Linked DNA regions of Homo sapiens: region 1 is linked to region 2. The links come from fine-mapping of genetic effects on plasma protein levels. A gene starts in region 2. The other region holds a variant in brackets. All regions are shown on one strand. Distances are from middle to middle.

Evidence for each region. PIP is the chance, under the fine-mapping model, that this variant and not a neighbour inherited with it causes the effect. The UK Biobank Pharma Proteomics Project read protein levels with antibody pairs (Olink). The fine-mapping took linkage between variants from a reference panel, not from the people measured, so its PIPs are less certain.
Region 1: its variant is fine-mapped to the plasma level of the FOXJ3 protein (UK Biobank, PIP above 0.99). The variant lies in the coding sequence of FOXJ3. If it changes the protein, the assay may bind it differently, which can mimic a change of level.

What each region holds. Positions count from the first base shown.
Region 1 is chr1:42,190,266-42,193,177 of GRCh38, forward strand. FOXJ3 (forkhead box J3) reads right to left here. Exons shown (of 13, transcript NM_014947.5): 9 at 1,038-1,454. Among named protein-coding and RNA genes, the nearest start is that of GUCA2A, 27 kb to the left of the region's middle. The variant T/G (reference allele first, on the strand shown) is at 1,260.
Region 2 is chr1:42,333,961-42,336,872 of GRCh38, forward strand. It overlaps FOXJ3 (forkhead box J3), which reads right to left and starts at 1,275. Exons shown (of 13, transcript NM_014947.5): 1 at 1,099-1,275. RefSeq lists an enhancer at 250-1,207 and a silencer at 792-1,311.

The DNA.
Region 1 (2,912 bases), 140 kb before region 2:
GATGAAGATAAAGACCAATAAAAAGGGCTGGTTGGTTTGCTTTTGCTACATCAAGGCAACTCTTGGCTATATCAACTACTGGCTACTTGATTACAAAATTCTGCCAATAATGGATTTTTAAAATAAACAATCAACTAGAGACAACATGACCCTGCCATGAAGCAAGTCGTAACTTAGGAAGAAATTTGTTAGGTGGGAGGGGATTAAACTAATATCCAAATGAGCCACGAACATGCAAGTCTACCAGACTCAGATCCTTTAGTTCAAGAAGAACTTCATGGATAAGGAAACCAAGGTTCAAAGGAATTATATGATTTAAGTCACTTAGGTAATACAACAGCCAAAGCAGTACTAGAATCCAGATCTCTTGAGGTAAACACAACTCAGGTAGTCAAAAGGTCAGGGTAGGAAAAAGGTTAACTGAAATGAAATTATGAGCAGGAACCAGGACATTTGCCATGACTAATTTGTTGTTGTTGTTGTGGGTAAGAGGAAGAGGAGGCTCCTTTAATAAATAGTGACCTGGCAAATAAAAATAAAGCAAACTCTGCAGCGACTGGGTGAGCAAACCCTACCCACTTAGCAAATGTCTGCTAATTTTAGTTCTTTTAGAATAACTGGTGTTATAAGCTTTGAAGTCAGACATGTCAGAATATAAACCCCAGTTCTACCACTTACCACAGTATGATCTTAAGCAAATTACTTAAAATTCTTTTAGTTGCACTTTTCCTATATATAAAATGTGGTCATCTATACTTGATTTGGCAGGATAATGTAAGATAATGTATCTAAATTATAAACAAGAGTTAAAATAAAAACCTGCAAGGGTTGCTGGGTTTGCCTATGTTGCCACAATAAATTTTAATCAAGAAAGTCGCCAGGTCAGTCTATGAATTAAATGAGTTACAACTATAGGATTATAGCAAGGAAACAGATGTAAAGAGGTTTTGGTAGTAAATACTACATGAGCTCTAAATAACAAAGGACAGATCCTAATTCACAGTTAGCCAAACACAAACCAGGAGACAAAAACTTACCAGAATTACAGGATACCTGTTGTGGGGGTGGGGGTGCCTGATGTGTTAACGTCTGATGCTGATGGTTCGGATGGTGCTGTATGTGTTGATGTGGAGAGGGATGCTGGGGGTGAGGGGACTGGAGCTGGCTGTGTTGCTGTGGGTGTGGTGCTGGGTGTGGGGAACGCTGCGGATGCTGCGGTAAACCATGCGGTCGATGGGGAGGATGTGGAGATGGCTGTG[T/G]GTGCATCTGGGGGTGAGACAGTGAGACCTGTGCAACCGAATTACTGCCTGTGGTGTTGAGGCCACTGCCATGACTGTTGGACAGGCTGCTTTGGTTGCTGTGTGGGTGAGTGCTCACTGTACTGCTGGGAGAGTGCTGATAGGTACATGAAGTGTGGGACTGCTGGGAAGATTCAGAAGGGATGTTCATCAAACCTAAAAACAAAGCAAGATCATTTATGGTCAGATTTCAGTTGTATTTTATGACAAACATTTGTAAAATTATTAACATAACAAAAGCATATGATGCCAGGAAGCAACACTGGTTCAATTTAATAAGTGTTAATCCAACATCCACTGCACACTAGGCTCTGTGGTTATTGAGAAGAAATATAATGCCCCACCCTCAAGTGGAAGAGAAAGACAAGATTATGACCAACAATTTAAGTACTAAAGCTAAAGTATACAGAGGATTATGAAAACTGCTCCTTGTCTGTTCAGCTAGGAGAAGGCTGAAAATATAGAGAAGCCTTTCTTTTAAAGACAGTGCCTGAACTGAGTCTTGAAAGATAAGGAAATGTTCGGGGAAAAGTGGGAAAGGTGTGGGGGTCACACTCAGGATGGCTCTCTGTAGGCATAAAGACCAAGGCTTTGATAGAAGACCGCACAATCTAAACTAAATCTCGACTGGCTAATAGTTTAAAACTTTTCCAAATAGGTAAAAGTAATGGAAAGACAAAGGAAAAGAGGAAGTTGTTTATGCCAAATAGGGAAGGGGCATAGGCTGCAAGCTGGAACATGCCTGTGAGCACGTCCAGCACAAATATCTCAGTTAAGGTACAAGGACATAGAATGTACTACGTGCCTGTGAGCATGTTTAACAGCTACACAGGATAGGGCCCAACAAAAAGTTATTAGCATAAAGTAAGGAGGCTTAAAGGAAGTTAGTTTTTAAAAGAAACTATTATTTCTAACACTTATGATTTACTCTTTAACAAGAAGGGAAACTATGAAGAGGAACTTTTTACTTTCTACATAGTGAAGGTGTAAGCTGCAGGATGAGCTCTGTAAATGTTAGCTGCCATGATGATGATTAAGCCAAAAATGTTTAATGTTAAGGATAATTTATGTTTGTTCTCCAAGTAGTTAGATAACCTTACTGCAACATTTGGTTCTATGTAACTAGACTATTTTCAAATCCTAAAGGGTAGCCCATGCAATGTTATGCTGAACCAAACATAAAAATAATTTTATTGAATGAAAAAAAAAAACACAAGATAATATCAATCAATAAAAGAATCAAGCTTTTTAAAAAAGATAAAATTATTCTATTTGTCATTAGTAGTAAAACTGTATTTGTGTTCATTGCAAGATAATCTTAAAAGCTACCAAGTTTTACAGGCAGAAGAGTTAATAAAAGTTCTTGCCTTGGTCCTAGAAAATAGTCACATATAAGGAATCTATAGGGTTATTACTGTAAGATCAAAGAAAGCAGTAATTTATCAATTTTCAATAAAATCCTAGCATTTTACAAGGGAACCAAGGTCTGATCTGTATCAACATTTTCAATCTCAAATTATTTTTAAATAAAAGAAAGCAAAATATCTCTCCAGAAGCCCAATATATAAAACTGATAAGTATAATATAGTTTTTTTTTTTGAAGCTGGGGAAGGA
Region 2 (2,912 bases):
GACCAAAAAGGTGCCCACCAATCTCTAACTCCTTCAGGAATTAGAGTGAATGGCTCTAACTCATTCAGGAATCCAACCAGGGACAACACAGACGTGGAATGCACCAACACGGAATAGTAAAACCTTTGCTAACCAGACACACAAAAAGTAAAACAGAGAAATGAAAACTATACACCTGAATGCATCGGTAGCAAGCGCTTATTCTCTATAATTAAGCAACAGAGAAAAGAATAAGAGCAGCTAATGGAAGAGGAAAAAAGATGTTAATGAAACTAAGCCCTGTTATGTCCCCTACTGGCCTCAATTTCAGAGTACAACTCTCGATTCTTCATCTAACCAACAGCCGGCCTCGGCAAAGCAAACTGACCCTAACACCTTCCACGCCACCCGGAGGAAATCACAGAGGAAAAACCATCCCGTTAACCTCCCTCCTCACCAGCTGCAAAAATGGAGCTGGGAGGGGGGGCGGGAGACACTCTACCACGTGGGCAGGATGCAACACACACAGGACAGCAACACGTCCGCATGGAACGGCTGCCTTTGCCCTAATCCCAGCAAAGGACACAGACACAGGATGGGCGGGAACGCAAGCACCCTCGCATGGGCCTCCTCTCCCCAAAGGGCCACTCCAAGGCGTGAGGTACAGCCCGCCCTGCCGGCAGAAAAGCGCCCCCAAGCTTAAAGGGAAGAAGCCGCAGAGTGCCGGGGTCGGGGGCTAGCCCAGGCCAAGGGACAGGTCATGGAGGGAAGGAGACGGTCGCTGCCCTCGGACTAGGCGCCCCCGGGATCCACGTCTGGTTCCCCGGTGCCCCGCCTGGGGGAGGGGCGGGAGACGCGAAGCCGCTGCTTCCCAGCTGAGGGGCAGCAGCAGCTGAGAAGCGCCGCGGGGGAGGGAAGGACCCAGCCCTCGGCGTCCGCCAGGCCCCAGCCGGGGCCCAGGCCCCCTGCCCCACCCGCCGCCCACCCCGCAACGCGGCTGCGGCTGGAAGAGAGAGGGCGTCTCGCGGAGGACAGCCCCTGCCTCCGTCCCGGGAGATGCCACAGCCCCGCCTCCTCGCCCGCCGCCCAGGCCCGGCCGCCCTGGCGGGGGGCACTTACCTCAGGCTGCGCAGGCCGGGACGGCCCGGCCGAGCCCCCGGCCGCTCCGTGCGTCTCCGCCCCCCCGGGAAAGGTCCCAACGGTGCCTACTGCGAGCGGTCGAGGCCCCGAGCAGCCCCGAGAGCGGCGGCGGCAGCAAGAGCAGCCAACATCCGGGGCCGCGCACCCGGAACTACTTCCCGACCCGCATCCCCCGCCCGCCCTCGCCGCCACCGCCTCCTGCGGCGTCGCTGCGCCGCCGGCCCGGCGTCAGCGGCGTCAAGTCCCTGCGCGGTCACGGTCGCTTCGACGCACGCAGGATCCCTCCGCTGGGACAAGTAGTGCCCTGAGACTCCCGAGGCTCTGCATCGGCGCAGCCGGTGTCATCTAGCGGCCGGCAGTTCCGAGCGACTTGGGGTCCTTGTGCCTCGGAGTGGCGTCTGGGAGCAAAGGCGGCGGAGGCAACCCCGCAGTTGAGGACAGTAGGGATCGGTGGCTTTGGACCCTGCCCACGGATACCTGGGGCCCCATGCCCCGAAGGAATGGTGCCTTCTGCCCTCCCCCGCCCCCCAACATCCGCCACCTCACCGAAGCGCCCGGCACCTTAGCCTCCTCTCCAGGAAAGCGGACGCCTTTTCCGACCTGGCACACCGCGGATTCCGGGACCCCCAACAAAGGCGCCTTGGACCTTCAGGACACCCCTCTTTTCAGAACTTCATGAGTCCCAGGTGCTAGACTCATGTCTGCGGAGGCCTTTCCCGTGCCTGGTCTTTCTTTCTTTCTTAAAGGAGTTGGACCTCTAAAGGCCCTTCTAATTCTCAAGGTAGCTACCCAGGTTATGGTACTACTATCAGTAGGTGGAGCGTTTAGAAGGGTAGTTTGGTCGACGAGTGAACTTTGGAATTTACTTCTACGTCAGTCTTCACTGATTCTTTCTCTAAACTATTAGCACTGATAATCTGCCCTATAATTTCACACTTAATTACATTCCAGTGTAGTATTTGCTGTTGCTTCATTCGCGTTAGTCACATATTCCCCTGCAGCGCCAAACACGCTTTTGAACTCACAATGGGTGGCTCAATATTTGGAGACTTAGATATTTGTTAGATGAATACTAGGCTGATTGGATGAGAGGAAAAGGAGAGGCATGAGTGAATTGGCCCTGGGTACTTTTTTGACATAGTCTCAAAGGGTTCAGATAAAGACCTCCAGCAGATCTGAGCACACAATTCCTTCAGTAAACATTGAACACCTGCCGTTTGGTCAAGCATTTCTAGGCACTGGAGATTCAAAGTATTCACATATTCCTTTTCTTTATAAGACTAGCAAGATTCTGAAGATTCATGTACTCATTCACTCAACAAATATTTGCCAATCACTACTAAGGTTGCCAGACACTATTTTAGTGCTTGGGATGTATCAGTAAACAGAAGAGAGAGAGAAAACAAATACCCTTCCCTGTTGGAGCTTTCATTCTAATATAAGGAGAAAGATGATAAATGTAAGAGAATTATGTAATATGTTAGAAGGCATATGGGGAAAAAAAAATACACCAGGGTAAGGGGTATGAGGAAAACTGGAGGAAGGGGGTTTGCAATTTTTTTTTAAGAGGGAATCCTGCTCTCCCGCCCAGGCTGGAGTGCAGTGGCGCGATCTCAGCTCACTGCAACTCCCGGGTTCAAGTGATTCTCCTGCCTCAGCCTCCTAAGTAGCTGGGATTACAGGCGCGCGCTACCACACCCGGCTAATTTTTGTATTTTTAGTAGAGATGGGGTTTCACCATGTTGGCCAGGCTGGTCTCAAACTCCCGAACTCAAAAGTGATCCGCGCTCTTC